Linked DNA regions of Homo sapiens: all the other regions are linked to region 3. The links come from fine-mapping of genetic effects on gene expression. A gene starts in region 3. Each other region holds a variant in brackets. All regions are shown on one strand. Distances are from middle to middle. Region 1 overlaps UBAC1 (UBA domain containing 1). Region 2 overlaps UBAC1 (UBA domain containing 1). Region 3 holds the start of UBAC1 (UBA domain containing 1). Region 4 overlaps CAMSAP1 (calmodulin regulated spectrin associated protein 1).

Region 1 (5,278 bases), 31 kb after region 3:
TTTAATAAAGTCCCTTTTCCTATTTCCTGTCTTCGTCTTTTCTTGGTGCCGCACAAGAAACCCGTGCGTCCCCGAGAGGCCACATCCCCGCGGCTCCGTGCCGGCTGCTCTGACCCGGGGCGGGCACCGGGGCCACCGCAGCATGTGGGAGGCCTTGTGGCCATGTTTGGTTGGCAAAGCCTCGTGTTGTATTGGGTTTAAGGGACTGGAGCTGAGCCCGTATTCCTGGGACACAGGTCCTGAGCCCAAGCACGGCTGCCTCCGCCTACCTCTGGCCTCTTCCTCCTTTTTTTTCATTTTAAAAAACATGACCGGTGTCTTAAAATGAGAAAATGAATTTATTTTGTTTTTTGTGAACTCTGCTCATTATTGTTGCTGGAAGCAGTCAGTTCCGAGCTGTTTGTTTTGAACTTCTCTTCTGAACCAGCCCCCTCCCCTTCTGAACTCTGCTTGCATTGTAGCTGAGTAAGAATGTTTTCGGAAAATGTTTCTCTCCACACATCTAGGTCTTTTCATTGTTTTTGAGATTTAGATTTAAAACTAAAGTTAATTTAAACTCTTTGGGCAGAAATATTAAAAATGCTTTTCAAAAGTAATGAATCTCGGCCGGGCGCGGTGGCTCACACCTGTAATCCCAGCACTTTGGGGGACCGAGGCAGGCGGATCACGAGGTCAGGAGATCAAGATCATCCTGGCTAACACGGTGAAACCCCGTCTCTACTAAAAATACAAAAAATTAGCCGGGTGTGGTGGCGGGTGCCTGTAGTCCCAGCTACTTGGGAGACTGAGGCAGGAGAACGGTGTGAATTCGGGAGGCGGAGCTTGCAGTGAGCCAAGATCGCGCCACTGCACTCCAGCCTGGGCGACAGAGCAAGACTCCGTCTCAAAAAAAAAAAAAAAAGTAGCGAATCTCACTTCTTTTTGAGACGGAGTCTCAAAAAAAAAAAAGATGCCTGTCTACTACCCTGCTGCCAGGCCACAGGCCCTCGGCCCGCCCCACGTCAGCAGGGTCTAGCCAGCCACAGTGCCCTCCTTGCCCGCCATCCTCTTTTGGCAAACTTGTGAGTCGGAAGAGAATGTTCTCCTCAGCGAGTTTAAGAGTCAAAGTTGGGAAATTCCTTCCGAGGAACCTCTGGACAGGTGTGTCCTCAGCCCGCCTCCTGCGGGCTGTGGAGCCGTGCTTTCCACGGGTTCGCTGGCTGCCTGGCTCATCTTGCTGTGGCCTGAGCGTCCACAAGGTGGGCGAGGGGCCACACCAACACCTGCCTGATGTGGCCATGAGGAGGGAAGTGTGTGCCAGTGCCTTTCCTCGGAGATGCTGCGTTCGCTCCCGTTGGCTGGTCCTGCACATGCAGCTTCTCCAGGTGCGCCTCCTCCGCTAGCCCCGTGTTCTGCCGCGCCCGCCTTTCAGTCCCCAGAGGCCCTGAGGTCGGGAATGCGCGTTCTCACCCAGCCCTGTCCTCTGGTGAGCGTGGATCCACGTTTTAACCTGGTCGCGGTTTGCATGCAGTTGTGGAGTTCTGGGTGAGTAAACACCACGTGCCGCCGAGGCCTTCCCAGGGGCTGCGGGCCGTCCGTAGATGGGTTCTGGAGCACGTCGCAGCTGCCCTGGTGAATGTGGTTTCTGCTCCTGCAGCGGCTGCTGGGGAGGTGGGGAGTGCTCTGGGCCTGGTTGCAGTCCTGCCGCTTCTCTGGGCCAGGCCATCAGCGCACACATGGGCGAGGCACCATCCCTGTGAACACAGCCTGTGTCTGGCACGCGTATTTTAGGGCTGAGGTTGTATCTTACAAGGTGAAATGAAATGGCCGGCAAACTCTAGAAATTCTTCGTTTACGTGGACTTCAGTTCCATGACCAGTAACGCTGCTGTCCATGTGTGCCTTCGCCACAGTGGCCCATGAACTAGGGGCAGGCAGCTGGCCGAGCCTGGCCCTGAGCGCAGTTGTGTTCCAGCTGCTGAGGGCCAAGTGGCTTCTCAGCCCATGGGGCCAGGCTGCCTGGCTCTGGGGGGCGTGGGTGCTGGGTCGGGGACGCTGGGTCGTACACAGATGTTCCGGTGCACATTGCTCTGTTGAGATAAGGGCCACCTGTGTCATTTTGAGCTTCTGCTAAGCCGTTTTTCTTCTTCCGGGGTCCTGTGGAGCAGGACCCCTGGGCAGTGCCCTGTGGCCATACTCAGGGCTCTAGACCAGGGTGTGATGCCGAGGCAGGTCACCTGTGTGCCAGGGAAGGTGGAGGGAGTTAGATGGCTCACTTGGCCAGCATTCCCTCCTGCTCCGGTGGCCGAGCTTGGCGATGACACATGCGTTTCCTCGTGGAGTGGGATCATGCTGAGATTCCAGGACAGCGTGGCTCAGCTGCTGGAGGGGTGACTTCCCCTGAGATCGTGGGGTCAGGACATTGCTGTGCCGACTGTAGGCGCCGTCCACACAAGCAGGGGATTCCTCCCCCCAGGTGCAGAGAGAGGTGGCCCAGCCACTTGGGCCACTACAGCGAGCTGGCATGGCGGTGGGACCCCGGGTGAGGAGTCTGAAGGCAGGGGTGGGGCTCACTGTCAGCTGGTGGGGACTGGGGGGCTCCGGGAGGTACTGGATGTGGGAGAGGCTGGGGGTCCACCAGCCTGCATCCTTCTCGAGGTCAGGGCCCTGCTCCGTCCCGTTTCAGGGCTGGCTGGTTGTGGAGGCACTTGGAAAACACTCGCTGGAACAGGCGGGTGGGAGGTGGGGCTGGGACAGGGAGCATGGGAGCCAGAGACCGCAGGAGCCTGAATCCCAGAGGACATTCCTGCTGGGGGTGTGGGGACAGCACCATCGGGGGCCTCAGTGCATCCGGGGAGCAGGTGGGGCCTGCCTGGGTCAGCCTCAGCCCAGCTGTGGGGTTCGCCCCCGTGCCCTTCGCTGCCCTTGGAGGCATGCTTGGTCCCACGGGAAGGCAGGAGGATGAGCTGCCATTTGCAGGGTGTGGGGTGGGCAGAGCATTCATGCGCTGGGCACAGCCTCAGCCAGAGGAAGGGCATTGTTGGCGTTCTGGGCCCAGCACAGGCTGGAGAGAAGGAACCCTCATGTGCAGATGTGGCCGAGCCTCCTAACCATGAGAGCACCGCCCAGAGACAGCATGTGCCCAGGGGTGCCCCCGCCCACCCAGGGGCTCTCTCTCGGGTTAG[G/T]GCCGGGAGTCGGGTGTGGCACCTGCAAGCAGCTTTCTGTGCCCAGTGGAGGCTTGGAAGGCACAGCTGCCTCCAGGTGAGGATGCCTGGTGCCTGGCTGGGGACTGACTCCCAGGCAGAGAACACAGCCATGTGGCTCTGGGGGACAAGGGTTTGGATGCTGCAGACTGGGCAGGGCTGGGGGCGGGGGTCTGAGGCAGTTAGTGGCTCTTCGACGTTCTCTCAGAGCTCGCTCTGGTTTCCCGCCTGACGGTCTCCCCTTGAACAGCTGCACTTAAGTGAGGTCCACCCTTGCCCCACTCCCAGGCGGGCTCACTGGCTTGGCACACGAGGGAGTCTGAGGGAGCCCCCTGTGGGGTGGTGCCTGCATTCTGGGCTCCCAAGAGCTGGCTTCCTGCAGGGGAACCTGCCAGTGCACCCCCGGCACTTTCCTGGGATCGAGTCTCCGCCAGGGATGTCTCCTGGCTTGGTCCTCAAGGGTCTGCCAGCCTCATACCCCGCAGGGCACGGTGGGCTCTCCAAGGCCAGGCAGGGCCTTTTTGACGGGTTCAGCCTAAGCCCAGGGCTGGCAGGGCCAGGGCCTGCGGTTGGGCTGCTCATCACCCAGCAGTCGCCGGGGAGCATGGCTGAGTGCCCTGTCCCCAACTGTCACTGCCCACATAACTGGGGGTGGGCCCAGGGCTTTCTTTGGCCAGCAGGTGCCCCACTCTCTTCTCCACATTCCCAAGAGGGGCTCCCTTCACCCACAAGCTGTCCTTAGGGGCTCAGAATGAGTCCCAGCCTGTGTAGGGCCCCAAGTGTGGTCCTCCCGCGCCTCCCAGGCAGCCCCTGGGCTGTGGGCAGGCTCTGGCGCCAGCAGGGCATGAGCCTGGCTCTCGCCCAGCAGTGGGGTCTCTGTCCACCCTGCATCGTGCTCAGCCTCCCCCAGGCAACTGCGCTCTTCCTCTCAGCAGCCATGCGCCCCCTGGGCCGTGTGGCCACACTCCTGCCCTGTGCTTGGCCTCTCTGGGGTGGGCGGGGATGCCCACCCTCCCAGTGCCACCTCCCGGGCTCCTGAGAACTGTGAGCCCCATCCTGGGCTGGCCTCTGCTTCACCCAGAGGCTGTGGACCTCACAGCCCAGGCACGTCCCCTTCCCCTCTGGGGACCTGGCTGACCCCTCCTGGGCTCCTGAATGACAAGGGCCTGGATCCCAGACTTGTGAGGGCCCTTCCAGGTCCCTGTCAGAGTGGACCCCACCCACACCCAAGAGCACGTTCCTGCCCTGGTGTGAGCCTCGGGCACCAGGGCCACAGCCAGGGATCAGGGCCACTGCCGAGGGCCGTGGTGGAGCAGGCCTGGGACCATGAGCCCTGTGGCCGCAGCGGCTCTGCAAGCTGGCAGAGTCCTGACAAAAGCTCTGGGACCTGCACCCCTGTCCTTGAGTGGAGATGGATGGAGACAGGAGACCTGGTGTCCAGGCTCCGCCGCAGCAGGCACTGCCCTGGCAGGTCGGGGAGAGCCTGACTTCCAGGGCCCAGCCGCAGAGTCTAGAGAAATGATTTTACTCGGGCTGGGGGGTGGCGGGGACACAGGTGCCACAGAGCAGGAGGTGTGGTCAGGTGGGGCCTTCCCGCCCACAGCACTGGCTCTGTCGCCAGAAAGATCCTCCTCGAAGTGAGCTCGGAAGCGGACTCTCCCAGAGGGCAGGGGTGGCAGCTGCGGGGCTGTGGTACACTCTGCCTGCGGCGTCGCCCGTGTGTGGTTTTTGAAGTGTGTGTGTGGTGGTGTGGTGTGCGTGTGTGCTCTGTGTGCATGCACAGGCGTGCATGTGTGTGTGTGTGCTCTCTGCATGCAGAGGCGTGCGTGTGTGTGCGTGTGTGCTCTGCGTGCACAGGTGTGCGTGTGTGCTGTGTGCATGCAGAGGCATGTATGTGTGTGTGTGCATGCACAGGTGTGTGCATGTGTGCTGTGTGCATGCACAGGCGTGCATGTGTGTGCATGTGTGCTCTGCATGCATAGGCGTGCATGCGTGTATGCTGTGTGCATGCACAGGTTTGTGTGTGTGTGCGTGTGCTCTGCATGCACAGGTGTGCGTGTGTGTGCATGTGTGCTCTGTGTGCATGCACAGGCGTGC
Region 2 (5,278 bases), 23 kb after region 3:
GCACCCCTAGACCACCTTATGGTGGCCGGAAAACTGCCAAAGATGGAGAGGACTCTGGGGGCTTCAAGAGAGTGGGATCTGACCTTTCAGGGATTAGGAGAGGCCCTTGAAATTTTGATGAAGCCTTCATCTTACTTATTTATATTTTTTCAAAATGGACCCCTTTAAACATTGTGGTATAAATCTCCAGAGTAGAGGATGTATTATCTTGTTACATGAATTGTGTCCAGAAAATGTATGTCCTTCCCCAAAAACGAATTAGCATATGTTCAGTTGTAGCTTAAGTTTTGTTCAATATTAAAAGTTAAAAAATTAGTTTTAGGATTTTTTTTTTTTTTTTTTGAGATGGAGTCTCGCTCTGTCGCCCAGGCTGCAGTGCAGTGGCGCGATCTTGGCTCACTGCAAGCTCCGCCTTCCAGGTTCATGCCATTCTCCTGCCTCAGCCTCCCGAGTAGCTGGGACTACAGGCGCCTGCCACCACGCCCAGCTAATTTTTTTGTATTTTTAGTAGAGACGGGGTTTCACCGTGTTAGCCAAGATGGTCTTGATCTCCTGACCTGGTGATCCGCCTGCCTCGGCCTCCCAAAGTGCTGGGATTACAGGTGTGAGCCACCGCGCCCGGCCCTAGGATTTTTTTTTTTCTAAGATAAAATCTGAATAAAACCTTTTTTCACAGGTTACAATGGCATTTTTGTTTCCGTTGAGATTGCACTTACTGACGTGGCCTTTCCCTAATGCCACTTCTCTTTGGGTAACAAGGCCCTCTGGGGTAAACCTGCGGTGGCTGCCGAGACAGTCTTATCCACACAGTCATCGGGACAAACCTGAAAGGGTCTGAAGTTGGCCTGACTGCCTCGTGTCCACATAAGCGATGCGTTTCTACCTGTCACAACCTGTGGCTCCCTGAAGACAAGCCTGGGAGCTGCACTGCCCCCCGGCTCTGCTAACTACAGTCATCCCTGCACTTCCTCGGCTTTAGGATGCTGAAAACCAAGATCTGTTTTAGCAGAGCTGTGAGGAAAGAACGTGGACGGACAGCGTCCTCAGTGCTGTTGGGAGCACCCTCCGCTAGGGTGCGGGGAGCGGGCCCCTCTGCACGCAGGTCACTGGTTCCTCGGCCTCCTGCCGCCCCCAGCGAGCTAACGGCTGTGCTGTCCTCTAGGCCGTCATTTCCCTGATGGAGATGGGGTTCGACGAGAAAGAGGTGATAGATGCCCTCAGAGTGAACAACAACCAGCAGAATGCCGCGGTGAGTGTTGGGCTGTGGTGAGTGAGTGTGGGCTGTGGTGAGTGAGTGTGGGCTGTGGTAAGTGTGGGCTGTGGTGAGTGAGTGTGGGCTGTGGTGAGTGAGTGTGGGCTGTGGTGAGTGTGGGCTGTGGTGAGTGAGTGGGGGCTGTGATGAGTGAGTGTGGGCTGAGTGAGTGTGGGCTGTGGTGAGTGAGTGTGGGCTGTGAGTGTGGGCTGTGGTGAGTGAGTGTGTCAGGCTGGGCGAGTGCTGGGAGCCTCACTCGTGAGCGCCCCGGGCGTGGTGGAGGCCGTGTGTTTGCCTACTTTCACATGCAGCCGGCTATGTGGCTTTTAAAGTGAGACAATTGGATAGATGGCTCAAACAGTATAAAAATTTAAAAATACGGAATTCTAGGTTTTTAAAAGGGTGCCTTATATGTACATATTTTATGGATGGGTAATTTGTTCATTTTTTTTTTTTTTTAATTTTTTTGGAGTCAGGGTCTCACTCTGTCCCCCAGGCTGGAGTGCAGCGGTGTGATCACACTCACTGCAGCCTCGACCTCCTGGGCCCAAGCGATCCTCCTGCCTCAGCCTCCTGAGTAGCTGGGACCACAGGCATGCACCACTATGCCCGGCTAATTAGTTTTTTAGAGACAAGATCTCCCTTTGTTGCCCAGGCTGATCTTGAACTCCTGGCTTCAATCGATCCTCCTGCTTTGGCTTCCAAAGTGCTGGGATTACATGCATGAGCCACCACTCCCAGCCCATTTTTCTGATTAAACTGACTCAAGAATGATTCCCGTCCTGTGCCCGTGTGCCAGCTGGGCTGATGGAGCTGTGCCTGGGGAGGTCCCTGTGGTGGCCCACATCCCCCCCCCACCATCCCCCGTGCCAGTGGAGTTCGTGGCTCACACCTCCAAGACAGAGATGAGGAGCCTGTGTCCTCATGGCTCCAGCACTGCTGACTGCCCATAACAGGACCACAGGCAAGCTGGGCACTTGGTACATTTGTTAATCACCTTCCCAACACTCCTGGGTGGGCCACACTGGCCCAGGTAAGTGGGGAAGCGGCAGCAGTCAGTGATCCCTGCGACACCAGGGTCTGCAGAGAAAAGCGGACTAGCTCTTCCTTCTCTGGCCTGGTCTGACACGCACGGCAGTGAATCCAGACTGCGTTTGTCTTCACGGTAGAGTCCCTTCCAGGGAGATCAGCCCTGGGGGCTCAACAGGAACTCACAGAAAGGTGCAGGAGCTGTCATGCCTGCTGCTGGTGGCGTCTTGCGGAGGCACTGAAGGCGCTAACAGTGGTATTGGTGCTCTTGGCTTTGCAGTGCGAGTGGCTGCTGGGGGACCGGAAGCCCTCTCCGGAGGAGCTGGACAAGGGCATCGACCCCGACAGTCCTCTCTTTCAGGCCATCCTGGATAACCCGGTGGTGCAGCTGGGCCTGACCAACCCGAAAACATTGCTAGGTATGTGCGCCTTCTTTATGCTAAGTCTCGGGTCGGGGAGGCTGGCTGGTTCCCTTGCAGGACAAATAGGTGCTGCGGAGGCGATACGGAGGATCCAGCGCTGAGGATCGCCGTGCGCTGGCAGCACGTCCTGCCATGCAGGTTGGCATCCTGCGGGTGTAGTCCCGCTACGTCACTGTGGGGCCCGCAGGTCAGGTTCTGATCGTGGTGTGACTGTCTCCTGCGCGATGACCCTGACATAGGCCTCAGAAAACCAGTGCCAGTGGCTTTCCGAGGGCCAGCGGGGTGGAGACTGCGCCAGCAGCTTAGGAACTCACGGGAGGACAAGGTGTGGTTTGGGCTTTTGCTCTTACTACTC[G/A]TCAGGGTCTTCGATGGCAATGGTTTATTTTTATTGTGAGATACGTACATACAAAAGTGTATATGATGATGTAACTTTAAAGAAGAATAAAACTAATAGCCATGTATCTACTATTCAGCTTTGGGCCTGGGGTGCCCCTCCCCTATGCACCTCATCCCTCCCTCCGGTGTGGCCGTCGCCGTGGCCGCGGCTTACCTCTCTGCTTCCCGGTAGAGTTTTGCCGTATTTGTGTCTCCTTAAACAATCTCTCATTTGCTGCTGCCTTTGTGTAAGTAGAATCATGTTTTAAGCAGGCCTCTGTGACTGACTGCGTTCTTTGTGGGGGTTGTGGAGTATTTTCTTGATGGAAGGCACTGGGAACCCAGGGCTCGTTGGGTTGTCTACATGTGGTGCCACTCCTGATTTTTTTTTTTTTTTTTTTTTGAGACAGAGTCTCGCCTTGTCACCCAGGCTGGAGTGCAATGGCATGATCTCGGCCCACTGCAACCTCCGCCTCCCAGGTTCAAGCAATTCTCCTGCCTCAGCCTCCTGAGTACCTGGGATTACAGGCGTGCACTACCACGCCTGGCTAATTTTTCGTATTTTAGTAGAGACGGCTTTCACCATGTTTGCCAGGCTGGTCTCGAACTCCTGACCTCGTGATCCACCTGCCTCAGCCTCCCTAAGTGCTGGGATTACAGACCTGTTGGTCCCCAGGAGCTGAGTTCCTGGATGTTGGGAGGGCCTTTGCCACCCGAGCAGGCTGGAAGTGTCTCTGGAGCTGCGATGGCCGTGCCCTGATCTTGAAGGCTGGCCTTCTTTCAGAAGCGTATTGGCCGCCTGTAGAACCTTGGCTGTGAGAGACCTTCCGCTCAGCGTTTGGCCTGCTTTTCTCTTGGATTGTTTTCTTATTCATTCAGAAAGGTCCTCACCTCCTGGATGCTGACCCTTTTCCCATTATTTGTGTTGCAGATGCCGTTGTTCAGTTTCTGGTTTATTTCCTCACACTGATGGGCAGAATCCCGTGTTTTGATGTCCTTCAGTGTGTCTGTATTTTTTTTAAGATGTGAACCTTTAAAGAAAACCCTCCATGGCTGGGCGTGGTGGCTCACGCCTGTAATCCCAGCACTTTGGGAGGCTGAGGCAGGTGGATCACGAGGTCAGGAGTTCAAGACCAGCCTGGCCAAGATGGTGAAACGCTGTCTTTACTAAAAATACAAAAAATTAGTTGGGCATGGTGGTATGCACCTGTAATCCCAGCTACTCTGGAGCTGAGGCAGAGAATTGCTTAAACCTGGGGGGCGGAGGTTGCAGTGAGCCGAGATCGTGCCACTGCACTCTAGCCTGGGCGTCAGAGCAAGACTCCACCTCAAAAAAAAAAAAAAGAAAAAGGAAAACCCTCCTATCCGAAAGTCAGAAACACGTTTTCCTTTTATTTTTTTTTCCAAAAATGTTAAAAGTTTCTCTTAATTTAAGTCCATAATCTACCTAGAAGTATGTGTGTGGTGTGAGGTAGGGATCTTCTTTGTACCCAAATTCTAAAACTTGAGAATGGTCTTTTGTGAGTTTATTTTTATTCTTAGTGATTCCTTTCACACTGAAAGCATATTCCTCCTAGCTCTCCAGCTGTTTGTATACCTTAGGATGTTAGTGTGTGCTGCCTTGGGGTCTGTCCAATAACTTTTTCTTTTTTTTTTCCTAATAGAAATAGGCTCTTTCTCTGTCACCCAGGCTAGAGTGCAGTGATGGCGCCACTGTCCATGCAAGATCTGCCCCCAGCACACACACTTGCCCACCTCCATATTATAGACAAGACCTTCATTGTTTTAACTTGTATTCCTCTTTTTTTTTTTTTTTTTGAGATGGAATCTCGCTCTGTCACCCAGGCTGGAGTGCAGTGGCACGATCTCAGCTCACTGCAAGCTCCGCCTACCGGGTTCACGCCATTCTCCTGCCTCAGCCTCCTGAGTAGCTGGGACTACAGGTGCCCGCCACCGTGCCCGGCTAATTTTTTGTATTTTTAGTAGAGACAGGGTTTCACCGTGTTAGCCAGGATGGTCTTGATCTCCTGACCTCGTGATCCGCCCGTCTCGGCCTCCCAAAGTGCTGGGATTACAGGCTTGAGCTACTGCGCCTGGCCACTTGCATTCCTTTTGGTTATTAGCAATGTTGAATACTTTTCTGTTGGCCATTGCATTTCTTCTTTTACATACTGTCTATGCGTGTCATCTATTTGTTTTC
Region 3 (5,278 bases):
TCAAGCAAAGGCTGAAAAACCTGCTGCGGTGGATCCCAGACACTCCCGTGGGAACTCACTGGGGAACATGAGACCGAGGCTGAGGGCCTAGGGATCCCGACCAGCCCACCTGCCAGCCTGGCTTGGTCAGCAGCACCACCCAGCCAGCCGTGGACTTGTGAGAAGTGATGGAGAGCTGTTGGTTGTTTTACCCGCTGAGTTTTAGGACGGTTTTGTTATGCAGCATCACTGTGGCTGCAGATACCAGATCTGCAGCCAGGCAGGCTTGGGCCCCAGTCCCCTTCCGGTCCCTGGAGACGCTCCCTGAGATGACGTGATATTTCTGGTTCTTCTCTTACAGGCCCCATTTTCTCCTCAATATCTTCTCCGCCTTGTGTTTCATGGAGCCACACTCTTGGAACTTTCCTAGTACCATACTCCTCTGTTTTCTTCATGAGCTCCTCTGCATGGGAAGGGGGGTGGGCATCCTCTTAGTTCCAGCTGCCGCTGGTGTGCTCATGACTGGTTTGACTTTTTTGTTTTGTTTTGTTTTTTTGGGACGGGGTCTTGCTGTGTTGCCCAGGCTGGAGTGCAGTGGTGCCATCACGGCGCACTGCAGCCTGGACCTCCTGGGCTCAGGTGATCCTCCCACCTCAGCCTTCTGAGTAGCTGGGACCACAGGTGTGCACCACCACGCCCAGCTCATTAATTTTTTTTATTTTTTGTAGAGGGTCTTGCTACGTGGCCCAGGCCGGCTGCCCAGTGTTTGTCTCCAGCCCAGGCCTCTCTCCTCAACTTCAGTCCTGTAGGTCCAGCTGCCTCCAGGCCACCTCCGTGTGAATGCCCCCAGCACATCCAGGTCCCCGTGTCCAAAACTACCCAACACCTTCCTGGCCAATGGCTCCTCCTCCTGCCTCCTACTTCAAAAGGTGGCACTGCCCTGCACTCTGCCACCCACACTGGAAGTCTTCAAGTCATCCTTGATTTCACTCTTGGGCCCACACCCTCCAATCCTGCTGGCCTCCCCTCCCACAGGCCACTGGAAGCCCCCTTCTCCTCTTCCTCTCCCTCCGCATTGCTCCCCCGCAAGGATGCCCTGCCCTCTTCCCTGTCCCCTCCACAGTCACCACCATTCATTCTGCCACCTGGTCACACCGTTAGTGGCTCTCACAGCAACGTCTTAATGCTCTGACCCGGCTCCTCCAAGCCCTCTAGCTTCCCCCACTCTCCACTCACCACCTTGGTGTTCCTCCCCTTTCTCCTCCACCAGCTTCCACGATACTACCACCACCTCCACTGCGGTCTCTAACAGTCGGTACTTCTGCTTCCTGCGTTAAAAATGCCCCATTCCAGGACTGTATCCTGGTGTCTGGTCTTAATCACTACCATATTTTCATTGAGTAGCAGAGGCTCCCACCTGTGAGAGGCAATTAGTAAGTGCTGAACTGGACACATGGAATCTGGACGAGGTTGGAATTATCACAGGAGAAAAATGAGGATGTGTGTGCAAAATGGTGTGGACAGAATAAAAGCCTGCAGGCAGGAGGCAGAGACAGCCTCCCCGGTTAGATTGCTAACCTCTGAGAACGGGAACTGTGCCTTATTCATCTCTGCGCAGTAAAGTTTTTTTAAATGAATGGGATGAATGAGTACAGATCAGTCAATGTGTCAGGTCTAACCTGAACTACAAAATTCATATTTAGGAGCATGGTAAGTAAGACGTTATCCAGGACTGTTGAGCTAGGTACAGAGACCACTGCCAAGGGGGCTTGCAGTGGGGAGAGAGGTCAGGCTCAACTCCCAATACAGCAAGGGCAAGTGGGTGGGGTCAGTGAATGGAAAATTAATAGGAGAAAACATCAGGGATGTGGGCGGTTCTGGCTAAACCGACCTGACAGGGTTCTTGCTGAAGAGAGGCTGGAGATATCAGACAGCACCTGGGGGACGAGGAACCTGACCAGACGTCCAGGGTGATCTGATATTGAGGCTGGGAGTTCTTGCTAAACTCACTTATCAAGGCTCTTCGCTAAAACTGGATTTTACAAGGAAGTGTACAGATGATGTAGAAGGTTCAGGAGCCTGCTTAAGTTTGGCCAAGCAAAGACTCTTTGTCACACCCCACAGAAAATGAGTCTGCCTGGCATCACCTGCACCAAGGGCGGCTTCCCTCCCCTCTGGGTGCCCCGCAAACCTAGGCTTCGCAGGAACAGTGACTCTCTGATCTGCGTGTGAATTAGAAAGACCTAGGCTTGTTAAAGCCAAGTTCTTTGGAGAGCCTCCGTTCTACAGCAGTGCAGTGCAAAAGAAATATCACAGCAGCCATGTAGGCAATTTAAAATTCTATCTTAAAAAGGTTAAAAGAAACAGGTGAAATTAATTTTAATGACATATTTTTCTTAACTCAATAGATACAAAATATTATTTCAACATGTAATCAATATGAAAACATTATCGAGATGCCTTACATTCCTTTTTCCCGTTACTTCTTTGGGATCCAGCGTGTATTTTACCTTTAGAACCCATGAGGTCCCACGTGGTGAGTGCCCCGGGTGGGAACCGCCTGCAGCTCGGGGAGGAACGAAGCTACCAGAGAACTACAGCTCCCGGCATGCTCCGGGCGCGCCCCGTGACGCACTTCCTTTGCGGTGGCCACAGCGCGCCCCCGGCGGCGGGAGCGAGGCGCCTGTCCGAGAACCACATCTCCCGGCATGCGCCAGACGCGCCCGTGACGCACTTCCGGTGCGGCCGCGACGGCGCGCCCCCGGCGGCTGCTGCGGCGGCGGGAGCGAGGCGACCGCTGAGGCCGCGGAGAGTGACGGCGGCCCGGCCGACGGGAGCCGGGGCGGGGCGGCGGCCCAGCGAAGGAGCGCGCGGGCGGTCTGGCCCCGCCCCCTCCCCGCCCGCCTTCCCGGTGACCTTCAGGGGCCCGGGTGGCGGGCGCAGGCCCCTGCGGCGGCGGCGGGATGTTCGTGCAGGAGGAGAAGATCTTCGCGGGCAAGGTGCTGCGGCTGCACATCTGCGCGTCCGACGGCGCCGAGTGGCTGGAGGAGGCCACCGAGGACACCTCGGTGGAGAAGCTCAAGGAGCGCTGCCTCAAGCACGTAAGGCCGGGCCCCCTCCCCTGCCCCCAACACCCGCTCCGGACCCCTCCGACTGCGGACCCCGCCTCAGTCCCCGAACCGCCCCGACCTGGGGTCCGCCGCCCAGTCCGCAGCTCCCAGGCCCTCTCCTCCGGGGGTGGAGGCAGCGCCTCCTGCCCGTTTGCCCGACTCTCCCCCTTTCGGATCCCACACCTCTGGACGCTCGTCCCGGGCCTGGCCTTTCGGCCGGCGGACTCCGGTCACTAAGCGCTCGCCCCGTGCCAGCCGCCCGGCCGAGCCCTGTACACGCCAGCCTCTCAGTTAACTCTGCAGCCACGCAGGGAGGTAGGGGCAGATCGGGAAACTGAGGCCTGGAGAGTGAAGTCGCCGACGGAGCAGGGCCTCGGGACTTTCCGGCAGTTGTACCTTTTTGCTGTTGGGGTGAGGTTTTTTTTCAGCAGCATCTTTGAGAGCTGAGAATTAACGTAGGCTCCTTCATGAAGAGGCCCCTTCTCCTTCCTCTTCCCCTTTCCCGCAGAGCCGGCTGCTTGGAGCTCTTTTCCTGGCTGGCCCCAGGCCACTGTGCCTTTTAGCTGGAGTCCCTGAAATAGTGCCGCTGCGGGACAAGGCCCTGCGCCCCTGCTTTTCTGCAGAGGTAAAATTGGTCAAGAGAGAAGTCCCAGGAGTAGGGTCTCCTCGCGGAGACACTTTTTAAAGTTTATTCACCTGAAATACTCCTGTGTATTTAGTTCCTTAGGTTGCTGATTTTTGGAACTAGTTCTCGAGTCTCTAAAGGACTCAGTAAGGTCAGCTAAGAAGCCTGTCTGTGTGTCAGACTGACCTCCTGTCTATACCTGACATGATCTGAGGGCTTGGCAGAATTTAGGTTGAAGGAGGCTGCAATTTTCTAGTGGCGACTCCATGTGATAAGTTACGACGTATCTGTGTTGACAGGTTGAGTGCGTTACACTTGAGCTGAGTGTGGTCTCTAAGGATAAACTTCAGTTCTTACCATAGTAGCTGCTCGCATACAGTACTTTCGAGTTGCTTTTGTGAGCATGGTTCTGTGGAGTTCTGGAACTGTCAGAGGCAAGCTTGGCAAGCCCCCTTCTGGAACGCACTGGCTGTGAATAACTGGGAGGTGCTGGCCTCAGGATTCACACCAAGGAGGGGGCTGAGCCTCCTGCGTTCAAGGGCCGGTATGTTTTGGCTGCTTTCTTGCTTTTCTTCTGCCCCAGTCTGCATGATTTTGCCGTCTGAACAACCATCGGGGCATCACTAAGCTCCAGCGCCGGTAACTCCGTGGGCATCCAGGCTGTTTGAGCCAGGTGGTGTTGCTTGTCTAGTTGTGTGTATTTTAAAAAACTTCTCTGGGCCGGGCACGGTAACTCACACTTGTAATCCCAGCACTTTGGGAGGCCGAGGTGGGCGGATTATGAGGTCAGGAGATTGAGGCCATCTTGGCCAACATGGTGAAACCCCGTCTCAACTAAAATACAAAAAATTAGCGGGGCGTGGTGGTGTGTGCCTGTAATCCCAGCTACTTGGGAGGCTGAGGCAGGGTAATCGCTTGAACCCGGGAGGCGGAGGTTGCAGTGAGATGAGATCGCGCCACTGCACTCCAGCCTGGCGACAGAGCAAGACTCCGTCTCAAAAAAAAAAAAAAAAAAAAACCAGACAAAAAACCCTAGAAACTTCTCTGAGGTGCTGCTGTGTCCTCCCTGAGCCAGTACAGAAGCTCCTCAGGGGTTCGGTTTATATCCACAAGTCCAGGGCCGGGCTTAGAGTGGCACCAAAACAAACTTGTGGGTTAATGGAATAGACAAAAATATCCTGTGGACCCCACACTGCATCGACATGGGATGTCCCCTGCGTTGGCACGGCATTTACTTTAACTCACTCGGTGCGATGTGCATGGCCATCATGATACTCTTTTATGAAAGGAAATAGGAAATGAGAGCTGTTTGATCCACAGATACCTACTCATGAATTTCAGGAGCACGGAGGGTCAGTTAGGCAGCCAGTTCCGATGCAATGCTAATTATTATACTCCTGATATATATTATTCCATTTGGTGTTGAGATGTATCATTTGGGATGTTTTGTCATTATTCTACTTTAAATTGAGATTGTATCCCACTCTGCGGTTTCCACAGGTGTGGAGGATCTGAGTAGCAGGGGATTTTCACACCGCAAGAGCCGACATACATTTCAGGACTC
Region 4 (5,278 bases), 120 kb after region 3:
TTTGCCCGTTAGTTGATGCAGTTTCTTCATAGATAGTGTTGATGGTCTTTACAATTTGGCATCTTTTTGCAGTGGCTGGTACCAGTTTTTCCTTTCCATGTTTAGTGCTTCCTTCAGGAGCTCTTGTAAGGCCTGGTGGTGACAAAATCTCTCAGCATTTGCTTGTCTGTAAAGGATTTTGTTTCTCCTTCGCTTATGAAGCTTAGTTTGGCTGGATATGAAATTCTGGGTTGAAAATTCTTTTCTTTAAGAATGTTGAATATTGGCCCTCACTCTCTTCTGGCTTTTAGGGTATCTGCAGAGAGATCTGCTGTTAGTTTGATGGGCTTCCCTTTGTGGGTAACCTGACCTTTCTCTCTGGCTGCACTTAACATTTTTTCCTTCATTTCAACCTTGGTGAATCTGATGATTGCGTCTTGGGGTTGCTCTTCTCGTGGAGTGTGCTGTTCTCCGTATTTCCTGAATTTGAATGTTGGCCTGTCTTGCTAGGTTGGGGAAGTTCTCCTGGATAATATCCTGAAGTTTGTTTTCCAACTTGGTTCCATTCTCCCCGTCACTTTAGGTACATCAGTCAAACGTAGGTTTGGGCTTTTCACATAGTCCCATATTTCTTGGAGGCTTTGTTTGTTCCTTTTCATTCTTTTTTCTCTAATCTTGTCTTCATGCTTTATTTCATTAAGTTGATCTTCAATCTCTGATATCCTTTCTTCCACTTGATCGATTCAGCTACTGATACTTGTGTATATTTCATGAAGTTCTCGTGCTGTGTTTTTCAGCTCCGTCAAGTCATTTGTGTTCTTCTCTAAGCTGGTTATTCTAGTTAGCAATTCCTCTAACCTTTTTTCAAGGTTCTTAGCTTCCTTGCATTAAGTTAGAACATGCTCCTTTAGCTCAGAGGAATTTGTTATTCCCCACCTTCTGAAGCCTACTTCTGTCAGTTTGTCAAACACATTCTTCGTCCAGCTTTGTTCCCTTGCTGGCAAGGAGTTGTGATCCTTTGGAGGAGAGGAGGCATTCTGGTTTTTGGAATTTTCAGCCTTTTTGCACTGGTTATTCCTCATCTTTGTGGATTTATCTACCTTTGGTTTTTGATGTTGGTGACCTTTGGATGGGGTTTTTGTGTGGATGTCCTTTTTGTTGATGTTGATGCTATTCCTTTCTGTTACTTTTCCTTCTAAAAGCCAGGTCCCTCTGCTGCAGGTCTGCTGGAGTTTGCTGGAGGTCCACTCCAAACCCTGTTTGCCTGGATATCACCAGCAGAGGTTGCAGAACAGCAAAGATTGCTGCCTGTTCCTTCCTCTGGAAGCTTTGTCCCAGAAGGGCACCCTCCGGATGTCAACCGGAGCTCTCCTGTATGAGGTGTCTGTTGACCCCTGCTGGGAGGTAAACACCCAGTCAGGAGGCACGGGAGTCAGGGACCTACTTGAAGGCAGTCTGTCCCTTAGCAGAGCTTGAGCGCTGTGCTGGGAGAGCCACTGATCTCTTCAGAGCCAGCAGGCGGTGATGTTTAAGTCTGCTGAGGCTATGCCCATAGCCACCCCTTCCCCTAGGTGCTCTGTCCCAGGGAGATGGGAGTTTTATGTATAAGCCCCTGACTAGGGCTAATACTTTTCTTTCAGAGATGCCCTGCTCAGAGAGGAGGAATCTAGAGAGGCAGTCTGGCTACAGCGGCTTTGCCCAGCTCTGGAGGGCTCCACCCAGTTTAAACTTCCTGGCGGCTTTGTTTACACTGTGAGGGAAAAACCCACCTACTCAAGCCTCAGTAATGGTGGACGTCCCTCCTCCCACCAAGCTCGAGCACCCCAGGTCGACTTCAGACTACTGTGCTGGCAGCGAGAATTTCAAGCCAGTGGATCTTAGCTTCCTGGGCTCTGTGGGGGTTGGATCCACTGAGCTAGACCACTTGCCTCCCTGACTTCAGCACCCTTTCCAGGGGAATGAACAGTTCTGCCTCGCTGGCGTTCCAGGCACCACTAGGGTATGAAAAAAAACTCCTGCAACTAGCTCGGTGTCTGCCCAAATGGTCGCCCAGTTTTGTGCTGGAAACCCAGGGCCCTGGTGGTGTAAGCACTGAAGGGAATCTCCTGGTCTGTGGGTTGCGAAGACTGTGGGAAAAGCATAGTATTTGGACCAGAATGCACCATTCCTCACGGCTTCCCTTGGCTGGAAGAGGGAGTTCCCCGACCCATTGTGCTTCCTGGGTGAGGTGATTCCCCACCGTGCTTGCCCTCTGTGGGCTGCACCCACTGTCTAATCAGCCCCAATGAAATGAGCTGGGTACCTCAGTAGGAAATGTAGAAATCACCCGCCTTCTGTGTTGATCTTGCTGGGAGCTGCAGATTGGAGCTGTTTGATCTTGCCAGCCACCTTCCTCCTGCCTTTCTTCACCCTTTTCATGATACTGTCCAGCTCAAGAAGGAAGTCTTGTTTTTCCTGCTGCTTGTGAGGTGGTTTCACCTGTTCTGCCTGGTGGGAAAGGCCTCTTCCCATCGGACCCCGTCGTGAGTCATGGCTGGAGCCCCCTTCTTCTTGCGGGGCTCCTCTTCTTGCCTGCTGGTCCTTAGGAATGAGGAGTCAGGAATGCTAGGAAGCAGCTAAGCTTCAGTTCACTCTGGGATGAGACATAGCGGGGGAGGGGGACCTCAGAGTCATGGGCCCGCTCTGCACCTCCGAGGCTGGGGAGTGTCTCTGGTCTGATACAGTATTATGTGGGGCCCTGTGCAGTGGGTCCTACTGCCAACCGTTGGGTAGTGATGCCTGCTGAAACCCTATGGCCAGGAGAGGCCAACACTCAGGTGCAGAATGCACGGCTGCTCTTGGAAAAGTGAACTGCTGGCCCTTCCAGGCTGCAAGGGGTCCATTGTAGTTACCTTGCTGCCTAGTGATTGGTTGGTCTTCTCCAGGACGGTGCCATATTAGGAGTCAGCACTGGTCTTGGCAGGTGGTAGTCTGTGCTCTTAGTCTCCATACCTGCCTACCTCTGGCTGCTTCATGTGTGTGTCTGTTGTCCTGGCCTGAGAGTGGCTGATGGCAGAGTTTGTCTGCATTCCCAGTTGACCCACTGTTAACTGTGCCCAGGCTTTCCCCTTTTCCATCTGTGGT[C/T]GTCAGGGGCCCTTGTGTGGCTGTAGAGAGGGGCTCGGTGGGCTGCTGGTGCCCTGGCAGTAGCTCGTGAGGGTCTGGGCTGTGTATGCCTGCAGCTCGTGCCCCTGCTCCTGTGCAGGCTCGGTCCCAAGGCACAACTCCGTCTTATGGGTGCACTCGGCCTTAGCCCTGGAGTGAGTGGGTGGCAGAACCCAGCTTGTGATGGGCAGTTCTGAACACACTGTCAGCAGGCGTACAGTACCCTGTGCACATCAGGGGCTGTTGTTAATGTCGCGTGATTCTCTGTGGCTCTACAGTCCCGGGATCTTGCATTGTGCTCTCCCAGCTGACTTGCCAGAGACTCCTGTGGCATGTTCTCCCTCCACTGATACCTGTAGGCCATGGGATGTGATGACCCCTCCCTTTCCCAGTGCATACTCATCTGGGAACGTAGCTGGTGGTCCCTTTGGGAATGACTGGGGAACCATTGCCATGCATGCTCACCTTAGTGTTGCTGGTCCCAGAGACTGGGCATTGTTGGGAGGAAATACGGACACAAACAGACTCATAGCTATTCATATGCATGTGGCAGGCACAGAAACAGTGGCTTGCTGAGTAGCTAGAAATAGGGACTCATACACTCTGCATCAGCAGGGAGGCAGGGAGAGAAGAAGCTTGTATGGGAAGGATGAATCAGTTTCCTCAGGAAAGACAGATAGGCTCATACAGGAGCAGAACCGAAGGGCGCCGAACCAAGTAGAAAGTGTGTAGCGAAGTGTGTCTGCAGAACGGGTAGAAAGTGTGTGATGATGTGTGTCTTGAGAATGGAGTAGAAAGTGCGTAACAATGTGTGTCTATAGAACAGGGTAGAAAGTGCGTGGTGACGTGTGTCTGCAGAACGGATATAAAGTGTGTGGTGATATGTCTCTGAAGAATGGGTAGAAAGTGCGTGGTGACGTGTGTCTGTAGAACAGGGTAGAAGGTACGTGGCGAACGTGTGGCTACAGAATGGGTAGAAACTGCTTGATGACGTGTGTCTGTAGAACGGGGTAGAAAGTGCGTGATGACATGTCTGTAGAATGGGTGGAAAGTGCGTGATGACGTGTGTCTGTAGAACAGGTGGAAAGTGCATGATGATGTGTGTCTGTAGAACGGGTGGAAAGTGCGTGATGACGTGTGTCTGTAGAACGGGTGGAAAGTGCGTGATGATGTGTGTCTGTAGAACGGGTGGAAAGTGCGTGATGATGTGTGTCTGTAGAACGGGTAGAAAGTGCGTGATGATGTGTGTCTGTAGAAGGGGTGGAAAGTGCATGATGATGTGTGTCTGTAGAATGGGTGGAAAGTGCGTGATGACGTGTGTCTGTAGAAGGGGTAGAAAGTGCATGATGTGTGTCTGTAGAACAGGTGGAAAGTGCGTGATGATGTGTGTCTGTAGAACGGGTGGAAAGTGCGTGATGATGTGTGTCTGTAGAACGGGTGGAAAGTGCGTGATGACATGTGTCTGTAGAACGGGTGGAAAGTGCGTGATGACGTGTGTCTGTAGAAGGGGTAGAAAGTGCGTGATGATGTGTGTCTGTACAGTGGGTAGAAAGTGCGTGATGACATGTCTGTAGAATGGGTGGAAAGTGCGTGATGACGTGTGTCTGTAGAACGGGTGGAAAGTGTGTGATGACGTGTGTCTGTAGAACGGGTGGAAAGTGCGTGATGACGTGTGTCTGTAGAACGGGTAGAAAGTGTGTGATGACGTGTCTGTAGAATGGGTGGGAAGTGCGTGATGACGTGTGTCTGTAGAATGGGTGGAAAGTGCGTGATGACGTGTGTCTGTACAGGGGGTAGAAAGTGCGTGATGACGTGTGTCTGTAGAAGGGGTAGAAAGCGTGTGATGATGTGTGTCTGTAGAAGGGGTAGAAAGCGTGTGATGATGTGTGTCTGTAGAACAGGTGGAAAGTGCGTGATAACGTGTGTCTGTAGAACGGGTAGAAAGTGCGTGATGACGTGTGTCTGTAGAAGGGGTAGAAAGTGCGTGATGACGTGTGTCTGTACAACGGGCAGAAAGTGCGTGATGACGTGTCTGTAGAACCGGTAGAAAGTGCGTGATGATGTGTATCTGTAGAAGGGGTAGAAAGTGCATGATGATGTGTGTCTGTAGAACGTGCGTGGTGACGTGTGTCTCTAGAATGGGTAGAAAGTGCGTGAT

The links. PIP is the estimated chance that this variant, and not a neighbour inherited with it, causes the effect. A credible set is the group of variants that fine-mapping cannot tell apart.
Region 1: its variant is the best candidate, but not a certain one, in a credible set for the expression of UBAC1 in visceral fat (GTEx, PIP 0.79).
Region 2: its variant is the best candidate, but not a certain one, in a credible set for the expression of UBAC1 in lung (TOPMed, PIP 0.69).
Region 4: its variant is the best candidate, but not a certain one, in a credible set for the expression of UBAC1 in whole blood (INTERVAL, PIP 0.66).

The regions. Positions count from the first base shown.
Region 1 is chr9:135,927,713-135,932,990 of GRCh38, reverse strand. UBAC1 (UBA domain containing 1) reads left to right here. Exons shown (of 10, transcript NM_016172.3): 10 at 1-22. Among named protein-coding and RNA genes, the nearest start is that of CAMSAP1-DT, 23 kb to the right of the region's middle. RefSeq lists an enhancer at 781-1,280. The variant G/T (reference allele first, on the strand shown) is at 3,164.
Region 2 is chr9:135,935,644-135,940,921 of GRCh38, reverse strand. UBAC1 (UBA domain containing 1) reads left to right here. Exons shown (of 10, transcript NM_016172.3): 8 at 1,163-1,249; 9 at 2,562-2,700. Among named protein-coding and RNA genes, the nearest start is that of UBAC1, 23 kb to the left of the region's middle. The variant G/A (reference allele first, on the strand shown) is at 3,059.
Region 3 is chr9:135,958,827-135,964,104 of GRCh38, reverse strand. UBAC1 (UBA domain containing 1) reads left to right here and starts at 2,732. Exons shown (of 10, transcript NM_016172.3): 1 at 2,732-3,080. The coding sequence starts at 2,943. RefSeq lists silencers at 2,583-2,992, 3,003-3,122 and an enhancer at 2,612-3,112.
Region 4 is chr9:135,837,667-135,842,944 of GRCh38, reverse strand. The region is part of intron 7 of CAMSAP1 (calmodulin regulated spectrin associated protein 1); the gene reads left to right. Among named protein-coding and RNA genes, the nearest start is that of CAMSAP1, 67 kb to the left of the region's middle. The variant C/T (reference allele first, on the strand shown) is at 3,103.